Regions from separate parts of the Homo sapiens genome. Here regions 2 and 3 are each reported to be linked to region 1. Evidence: microRNA targets listed by miRTarBase, many of them from high-throughput screens and not tested one by one. Region 1 holds a microRNA gene; each other region holds the end of a gene's coding sequence.
What was found. Region 1 holds the annotated microRNA hsa-miR-548aw (GUGCAAAAGUCAUCACGGUU, at 1,094-1,113, shown strand). A microRNA usually pairs through its seed, bases 2 to 8, with sites in the 3' UTR of a target mRNA and lowers its output. Matches are read on the target gene's strand: a 7mer-m8 pairs with bases 2 to 8, a 7mer-A1 pairs with bases 2 to 7 and ends in A, and an 8mer does both.

Region 1 (3,167 bases):
CCTCCCCCGTCGTGAAAGGGCCAAGGCCGACGGCGGCCTCCGCCACGAAAAAGAGTCCCCCTCCGGACCTCCCCTCCTTCTCGAAAGGAAGGATAGACGGCCGCGCTCGGCAGCCCCGCCGGAAGGAAGAGGCTCTTCCACTCATAACTGACGATGTGGGTTGGACGAGAAAAAAAGTAAGGAGGGTTTTTATGGAGGGGGGCGGGGCCGGGCGGAAGGATCCGAAAGGAGGCTGCGAAGAGATCTTGTGACTCCGCGAAGGAGGCAAAAAGAAGGGCCGGCGCGGCGGGAGGAGCCACGCGAGAGCCCGAGGGGGCGGGGCGGGCGGTCACGTGACTGGCGGGCGGGGGGACGCGGCGGAGAGGCGTAAACAAGCTGGCGGCGCCTGGGTGTGGTTGGAGCGCCCTGCCCCTGCCCCCCGAGTCGTTTCTGCCCTTCGCTTGCGTGGCGCCCTCCGAGGGTCTCTCTGTGGGCGGCCTCAGAGCAGCGATCCTGTTTCCCAAGGAGCTGCTGGGGCCCGCGTGGGTGAAGGGCCTGCTTGGGAGCTTTGGAGTTGCAGCTCACCTGGGAAGGGGCGGAAAGCTGCGGGCCAGGGCAGCCCTCCTTCCTGGGCTAAACATTTTCAGAAGCCCGCCTCCGGGATTGCGGGGGACCCCCCTGGCTTCTGCCTTCAAGTAGCTCACACTTCACACCTACTCATGACATCTAGGGGAAACCAGCCCTAATAGGAGACAGCTTGAAAATCAGAACGCCTTATTCCGTTTCCTGCTGAAACAAGGCTTTAAGTCCTCCAAGCCTCAGTTTCTTCCTCTGTGAAATGGGCATAATGACATCTGTGACGTGAAGAATCAAGGAGATGAAGTATGGACAGCGTTTAGCCCAGAGTCCTGCGCCTAGTAAATGCTCACTCACTAGATAGGTGGCCTTTATTGCGAGGCTGAGTATGATGGGCTCCATCCAGCACGAACACAAAGCCCTGTGAGAGGAGGCAGAGTGAGATGAAGTCGAACTGTGGGATATGAAAGGCATTTTGAAGGAGTAGGCATCAGGTTGGGTTTTAAAGGAAATGTAGGTTTTGTGAAATACTAGGTCGGTGCAAAAGTCATCACGGTTTTTACCATTAAAACCGCGATGACTTTTGCATCAACCTAATAGAACCAGGCGAGGCGGCTCGGGAGAGAAGGCCATTCCAGGCAGAGGGAACCAAAGGAGCAAGAGCCTAGGGGCAAAAAAGTGTTGGGTGAGTTATGGGAATAACAGGTTTTGTCATGGGAACCAATTGGGTCACAGTGCAAGGCAGCCATGGTTAAGGGGGGCCAGGTGTGTGAGTAGCCAGCACCGTGGGTGCCTTCAGAATTCTGAAAAGGCCCTGGATGGTATCGGGTAGAGCCGCTGCTAGTCAGTATAGGGCCTTGGTGAGAATTAGAAAAATGGCACCCCTGGGCTGTATTTTGGCCCCTATCCACCAGCCCCAAACCCTCCTGGGCCCTTGAGCAGTGAACAACCTTTATAACCATACGTCTAGAGCCACGAAGGCTTAGGAGGGAGGTGAAAATTGAACTGATGATTCCTCTGTTCTAACACAGTCGCTGGGGGGAAGCTAAGAGTTCTAGATTCAAACAGACCAGAGTTTGAATGTAGGTTTCAGCCATCATGTTCTAACTGGATGAGCCTTAGTCTCCTCACCTGCAACATAGGGCTAATAATAATGCTAGTTCATGGGGATTTGGGGTGAAGTCAGTGAGTCATTAAGCTCTAAGTGGCACAGAGCCTACTCCAGTTAATGTTATTTTTGATAACTGTTAAGTGCCAGCTGTCAGCATCCATCACTTCCAGAAACGGGTCCACCAAACACTAAATTCTTCTGTGTCACCACCCAAGCATAGTCTGCATGGGGTCCAGAGATGGAAAGGTCGAGGGAAACGGGGAAGGGTCTGGGTTCTCTCAGTTCCACCAATCTGCAAACTACTTTACAGGAACAGACTCTTCCCTTTGCATTCACACCAGGGAAGGGATTCAAGATTTCTGAAATCTTCAGAGATTTCTGAGACCACCAGTGATGGGAGACCTAAGGAGGAGGGCAGGGGGAGCAGCACTGCTCTGGAGCTCTGACCCAGGAAGCCCCCCCACACCCTGACCTTCCTTGGCTCCATGACCTCATCCTGCAGGAATGCATTCTGCCATGGAGGAGAGCAGCCATAAGCAGAGCTCATCAACTGCTCACTTTCCAGGGGGCCATAACCACATTGTCACTGTTTCTACACTGTCTGGAAGAAGAATGGGCATTGTTACCTCAATATGGGACCACCAGGGGCTTGCAAGAAGAGGCTGAAGGTGACAGGCAGAGACAGCTCTACTACCATCTCCTGCCACTTACCAGGCTGGGCCACCTAGATGTTTTCTGCTTCTCTGGGGTTGATTTTTGTCATTTGCTCAACAGACACTATTCAGACCACTACCTTCCATACACCACCCTGGAGCCTCCCTGTGACGGGGCTTCCTGACCGGCCTGTCTGAGCATGAAAGGGCTGAGCCCTCCATAGGCGGGCGTGCTGACAGGATGCACGTGGTGGAGGACATCTGCTGCATTTGGCTGTGTGACATCTCCCCCTCGCCTTCTGAACAGGTGAACCGCCCATCCTCAATTCTTTCAGTGCTGATGGTCCTCACAATCACAGTACCAGCCCCAGGCCACAGCAGGTGGACCAGGCCTGGCCAATCTGAGATGCCCATCATGGAGCTTGTTAAAAGAAAGCTTAAGACAAGTTCAATTAGATTAAATTTAATCGAGCAAAAAAAAAAAAAAAAAAGAAAGAAAAAGAGAATTCATGAATCAGGCAGCCTCTAGAATCAACAGATTCAGAGAGACTCCCGGGGTCAGAACAAATTTATAGACAAAGTAAAGTGGCCTGGCGCAGTAGCTCACTTCTGTAATCCTAGCAATTTGGGAGGCCAAGGCAGGTAGATGGCTTGAGGTCAGGAGTTCGAGACCAGCCTGGCCAACATGGTGAAACCCTGTCTCTACTAAAAATACAAAAATTAGCCAGGCGTGGTGGCGGGTACCTATAATCCAAGCTACTCAGGAGGCTGAGGCAGGAGAATCACTTGAACCTGGGAGGCAGAGGTTGTAGTGAGCTGAGATTGTGCCACTGCATTCCAGCCTGGGT
Region 2 (3,167 bases), not on the chromosome of region 1:
CACTGTCTGATACCCTCAGACTCTATTTGAAAAGGTCTAGTCCAATCACTGTCAAAAATTAACACACTGATTAATAAAGTGCAGCCACTGAACCACTAATACTGCTGCAAAAATCTTCATGTACCTTATCCATAAGACCACAAAAATGTTCACAAAAAAACTAGATTTCTTCAGTTTCAGCGGGGAACAGACAATTATCTGTCATTAAATTCATCTACAAATAGAAAAAATAATGCACTGTATGTACATTATTAAGCAAAGTGGAATATTTATTGGGTCATTTTATCATGCAGAAAGTGAATTTCCTAAGGTCTTAGCTCAATGTATATACAATCTAGCAAAGCTAAATGTAAGAAAATAGCAAGGACAATTTATTTCTATATAACAGAGCATATACTCCCAATTTGCTGCTACTTCAAAGAGCACTTTTAGACTCATCTAACTTTTACAGGCTCTTTCAAGTGAAGTTCATGGAGACTAGTTATTAATCCATATAAGACAAAAGAAGAAAGAAGAAATATAACCAAAGCAAAGCATTCTGTTAAAAAAAAAAGTAATAAAAGCTAACCACAGAATATGTCAGTTTTGGTTTGCAGACAACCCCTGAGATTATATAAACCAAAGCGTTAAGACACCAAATAGTCAGAGGTAAATTACTAAGAGAATTACATTCATACATGGTGTCATAGCACTTATCTTTTAGAAGGTACTTTGTTACCATCCAGAAAGCGTTAACTGCTTGGATTTTTTCAGGAAATAGTGAATATTAAGATGTTTCTAAAAAATTATCTTTTCCTTTTGAAAATGTATCTAATTTGAAGATAGTAGAATTACAATAAACTTTCAATCACGGAACTACTAATTATACTAGAACAGCAACGAATGACTTTTAAGCCTATAGGTAATTACCAAAAAAAAAAAAATTAAGGAGGCTGAAATTTGTCAACAATAAGTTTAGTATATCTATTAAAAATAGCTTGGGCATATTTGCAGCTGCTAAATTGTTCCTATATTTTCAAATAAGTACAAAAGATTGACTGGTCCAAGCATTCTAATGACATATCTTAATTTGAAGAGAATTCTCTGTGGTAACAAGCAATCCCTTTCCACTGCCATCTCCTGTTCTTATCTATCCAGCATGATAGTAGCCTTTGTGAAGCAAAACAGGCATACCAGGAAGAATAATTATTAACAGAATTCATTTCCCTCATCCCCTCTGTTTTATCCCCCCTGTGTTATGACACTGAAGGCTAGAGCAACAACGACATAGTGATCTGAATTTGGCACACAAGTTAACACTAAATACCTTGTGATGGTTTCATCTACAAAAGTATACCAGTACCAGTGTTTGTTGAGAAAGGCAACTAAGCTTTTGGTTGGCTTTAGCCCAAATGACTGGACTAAGTTCTGTAACAATGAACCAAAACAGATGGAACTGGGTTCTACACAATCAACAACAGCTGTTTGAAAACTGAAACCTTGGTCCTGTTTTCTCTAATGAAAAGGCAAGACTTTTCCTAGAGGCTGCACTAGGTCTAAGTACTTTTATTTCTAAAAACATCTGCCAAATAAAACCAACCAAAACTCATTATTTTCACCATTACCAAGAGCTAGCTCTATTAAATTTATATCAACAAGTTAATCTGTCTCTATATAGGGAAGGTTTCCGCAAACTAAAATCTAAACCTAACTTTTGTAGACAGGGATTATGGTAGGAATTTGGTATTACAACTAAACCAGCCAGCTAAGGAGTGAACCTAAGAAAAAATATATTACATATCCTTATTGACAGAATCACAGTTAGATGCTGCACTAAAACCCTAAATGGTATATCTCTCAGCCCACGTAAAATTTCAGCTCAAGAAGTTCACAAATAGAAACAGATAATAATGTTCAAATATTACTTAAGAGTGATTACACTTAAGTCAAACATGGGAAAGAATAGCAAATACAAACCCCAGGGAAAAATGAGATTATGGTGATTTCCAAATGCAGTTTCTATAGATTAGGCAGAGGTAATCATTTTAAAGTGATTCATTCAGCTACCCAGACTCTGGAAAACAGGTCGGGGATGAGGCAAAGCTCTTAATCTGAAGAAATAAAGAAATTGTGGCCTTTGATGACAAGATGGGCATTTCAGTAAATTTTTTTAATGACTTTAATGATTCTTATTTAAGAAAAAGCCCTTAAATAAATGCTACCAAGGCAGTAATATTTGACCATATGAACCAGACCAAATACCCTTTAATTTTAGTATATTAACCTCTGCTGTAAATGCTCTTTTAACATTGCCACATGTACAAATTTGTCTAGAACTTCACGACACAAAAGTGTGCAAATATGAGTCTAAGATTGTGCTGAAATAGGGAAAGGCTAACACTGATGTGCAAAGTAAAAAAGAAAGATAACCGCTTCTGCAACAGGTAATAAAACAAGGAAAAAACGAGTTAGGTCCTGCATGTGTCTCCACTTCATTGCTTCCATGTTTGAAAAAGGGAGTCTGTTCTTTTGCTAGGCCATGAGGCTGGAATCCACTTGGCATACTGTGTTGAGAGGTCTAAGTTCAGTGGTGCTCTCAGCAGCAGCCGGGAGGTGTGATTCTGAGGCTGGGTGACCTGTGCTTTCAGAGAAGCAGGAAAGGGCCCTCTAGGTGTGCTGCAGTCTCTCAGAAAGAGTTCATCAAAGTAGCGAGCAACGAAAGAAACTGGTCTTCTTTGATCGGTTTTCTGTTATTTTCACTGGTCCACCTGCTCCTGCTGAATTGCTGTCATTCTAAAAAATAGAAGATGAAGTTACCAAGGAAATAAAAGTTTCATGGTTTGACCTCAGTTACCTAAAAAATAAAAATAACTAACCATACCATGTGAAATGTGTATTCTAGTGAAATGTGTATTCACTAGAGTATTTTATTAGAACGGGAACTAGTTAAGCACCAATGTTGTCTTTTTCTTTGGAAATGGTGAATTGAAAAGAGGAAAATGCCCTTACGATAGCAGCTTTTATATCAATAATGTATTCAATAGGAAGCTTCTATTTCTAGTTCCAATGGAGTGTAAAGTTTCAAAGGTAATGATGGAAACAATGTTAAGATACTGGCATAGACAGTTCTGTTAGAGGTAAGAAGAGTTAGTAGCATAAGGTACGCAATTATAGTCAGGACTCAGGAT
Region 3 (3,167 bases), not on the chromosome of region 1:
TGAGTCCGTGGGTTTAACTAGCTGTGATCAGCAGAAGCAGCTGCATGCAGTGCTCTAATTTTTTCTTTTCCCAAAAAGTTGGGGTTGGGAGTGAAGGTGCTGAGACTGGTTTGTGTCTTGCAGAAATTCCAAAGGCGATGTTGATACAGAAATTTAAAAGTCTTATTTAACAAAGGGGTTTGTGTATTTTTTGATAGTTTGGGTATTTATCCTGTTATTCTATATTCACCAAGTCAAAGTGGAATGCTTTTCTTATAAATATCTTTAATGAATAAGCCAACTTTAGATTTTAAAACTAGCTGCAATTTTATTTTCTCATAGGTGTCATCTTTAAGAAATGAAAAGCGAGGCTCATCATATCTCATCTCTGCCCCAGAAGGTGGTTCAGTGGAATGTGTTGACCAGCATTCTCAGGGCACAGGAGCATATTACATGGAAACTTACTTAAAAAAGAAGCGAGTATACTGAGTTAAGCTCTCTCCTAATAACCCCCTAAGGTTCTCTGCAGTATCTCTGCTGTTCATCGCTGCCTTAACTTCATTCAAACTAGCCATATCCTTTAAATACGGGTTTATAGTTTCCCAGAAGGAACTGTGTTGTGCAGCAGGCAGAAATGCCAAATAAAAAATAGCAATAAGAAGAGACATCAATTGAGGACATTTTCCACTAGAGTCAGATGCATCTTAATCAGTGTGCTAACTTACAATCCATTGGAGAAACTAACAATGTTCCAATATTCCTTGATTTAGGACTGGGAATAATTCTGACACCATATATAAAAGAAGTTTGAAGCAATAAATGGGAAACAGTGTTGTTTCCTGAGCCTTAGAAGAATGAGTTTCTTATAAGCCAATGTGCATTTCAATTTACTTTCCCTAGAAGTAATTGCATTTATAGATTTTTAGGACTTTTCCTAGAACTACAAGGGTGCAAGTACCAAATGTGCTGATGGTAATATTATAAAGATGCTCTACATGCACACTCAATTACGCCCACACCAGCCATGCAAAATTAAACCCGGTAAGAGAGTGACAGTGATATCCAAGGTATCCACTACTACCGATGCTTTAAGATGTTGTTTACCATTTATACCTTCTGTGAAAAATAGAAGGTATTTTAAGAAAAGTAACTTTGGTGATCTAATAAAAGGGTTTGGCAAACTACACCCTGGGTCCACATTTGGTCTACCACCCGCTTTTGTGCTGCCTGCAAGCTAAGACTAATGTTTACATTTTTAAATGGTTGGAGGAAAAAAGAAAACTTATGACATGAAATTTATATGAAATTCAGATTTCAGTGTCCATAAATAAACTTTTATTGGGACGTTGCCATGCTCATTCATTTACGTGTTGTCTGTGGCACTCTTACGCTACAAGGGCAGAACTGATTAGCTTCAACAGAGACTGTATGGCCTACAAAGACCATATGGCCTAAAATTTCAAGTATCTGGCCATTTATATATAGTTTGCTGATCCCTGATCTAATAGCACTAATTCTAATAGCAACTATTCCTTTCAATTCACCTAAAGACAGACCTTTAGCCTTTAGACAGACTTGTAAGTGGAAAGGAACATGGGTTTCTGTGCTCATTTCATAGCGTAGACTAGTAATGATCTAATGACTAGAATGGGGCCTATTTTGATCACTAAATGCCCTATTATTTCCACAATATAGTATAGTAAAGCAGTCAATACTGCACTTTCTGATGGAGTCTTAAGGAGTCACAGTATTTATAACCATTTTGAGCTAATAAGCTATACCTCACTCTCTGCTTTCTCTCTCACTCTTTTTGATAGTGTGTTAGGGTGAAAAATCAGTTATTTAACCCAATTTACTTGTGAAAGAAGTTTTATCTTTATGGACTATGATGACTTTTGACATCACCATTTCTTGAAGACCTTGGTATTAAATGCATGAGAAACCTTTTGCCATCTAGAAATTTCTAAGTTTGTTTATGTTATAAGACTGTAATTAATTGATAGGGAATTTGGGATCTCAATCCGGGGCTTTTTGAAATCAGATCATTAAATATCTCGTCACTTTGGGGACTTGTTATTTTTAACTATGATGTGGATATCCTGTTTTAATTATGAAGTCTAGAATTGGTACATATGTTGTATGCTTTGTAAAGAATTTCACTTGGTCTAATTTATTGCATATACTAGCTTCTGTTGGAAAATGACTGACAGCTAGAAAGTTTAAGGTAATTTCTAAGTATACTACCTATAAGTAACTGATAAGAATTAGGCATCATTCAGTGATATAGCAGATGACTAATGGGTTTTTCAGGCCCTGCACTTCTCTTTCCCATTTTCCTGTTGCATTCAGCCTCTTCAATGCTTAGTCACACCTCCACTATAGTACAAACAAACAAACAAACAGAAGAAAGGAAAGATGGTGAATTTTGCAACAGAGCTGCAAAAAGTCAGTCAGTCAAAGCAGGAAGAGGTTGAAGGAACTAAAACAAACAAACAAAGGTGTCTGGACTACAGCACAGTGGACATGCCATCCATACTGGCCTGTGCCCCGTTATCAATCACTGGGCACAACAGTGAAGAAGTGCAAATCAAGTGGTGTTTGTTTGTTTGTTAGTAGTAAGGACCGTAACCCACCCCTTCCTCCCCCCAAAACTATACTGTTATTTTTCTATGTAAGCAAATTGTTTGAAATGCTTTGAAAATGAAATCTTAATATTAAAAGGCATATGCATGTAAAGTCTTTAGTATATTTATTTGTATAAAGAGTAAACAAAGTGCATATAGAGTGGCCACAGGTTTGACACAGAGACCTTGGTGATGTAGGCTATGAACAAATTTAAATGGCAACTTCATTGCTGCCACTGAACCAATCCTGAATTTGGGCTCAACAGGTGAAAAGTAACAATATCAAACGAATACTAAACAGCATAACAAAAAGATTTTCAGACTCTTGGTCATAAAGACCGTAATCGTTCACATTGAATCAATGACTAAACATTTTTGATTACCCAGCTACCTCCAAGCAAACTGAAAACTGTCTAGTGGATCCTGAAGTCCATAGTGCCTCTAGCCGGGTCTTTCAAGTGTTGCACCACAGGGTGATGATTGATGGTAAAAACAGGGATCAACCCTTGTAGATCGGTGGTAAGTATGGAAACCCTCTAAGAACAGTGCAGCGTATGTGGTATT

Region 2: the mRNA of RAB8B is a reported target of hsa-miR-548aw. Seed matches in the 3' UTR shown: 7mer-m8 at 106-112.
Region 3: the mRNA of RAVER2 is a reported target of hsa-miR-548aw. Seed matches in the 3' UTR shown: 8mer at 2,403-2,410.

Annotation. Positions count from the first base shown.
Region 1 is chr9:132,944,621-132,947,787 of GRCh38, forward strand. It overlaps MIR548AW (microRNA 548aw), which reads left to right and starts at 1,087; the gene lies at 1,087-1,151. It also overlaps a transcript of TSC1 not described here and a transcript of GFI1B not described here. RefSeq lists enhancers at 1-601, 1-213, 574-713 and a silencer at 314-393.
Region 2 is chr15:63,263,132-63,266,298 of GRCh38, reverse strand. It overlaps RAB8B (RAB8B, member RAS oncogene family), which reads right to left. Exons shown (of 8, transcript NM_016530.3): 8 at 1-2,772. The coding sequence ends at 2,680. Among named protein-coding and RNA genes, the nearest start is that of APH1B, 13 kb to the left of the region's middle.
Region 3 is chr1:64,830,518-64,833,684 of GRCh38, forward strand. It overlaps RAVER2 (ribonucleoprotein, PTB binding 2), which reads left to right. Exons shown (of 12, transcript NM_001366165.2): 12 at 322-2,715. The coding sequence ends at 468. JAK1 (Janus kinase 1) reads right to left here. Exons shown (of 25, transcript NM_002227.4): 25 at 2,712-3,167. Among named protein-coding and RNA genes, the nearest start is that of RAVER2, 87 kb to the left of the region's middle.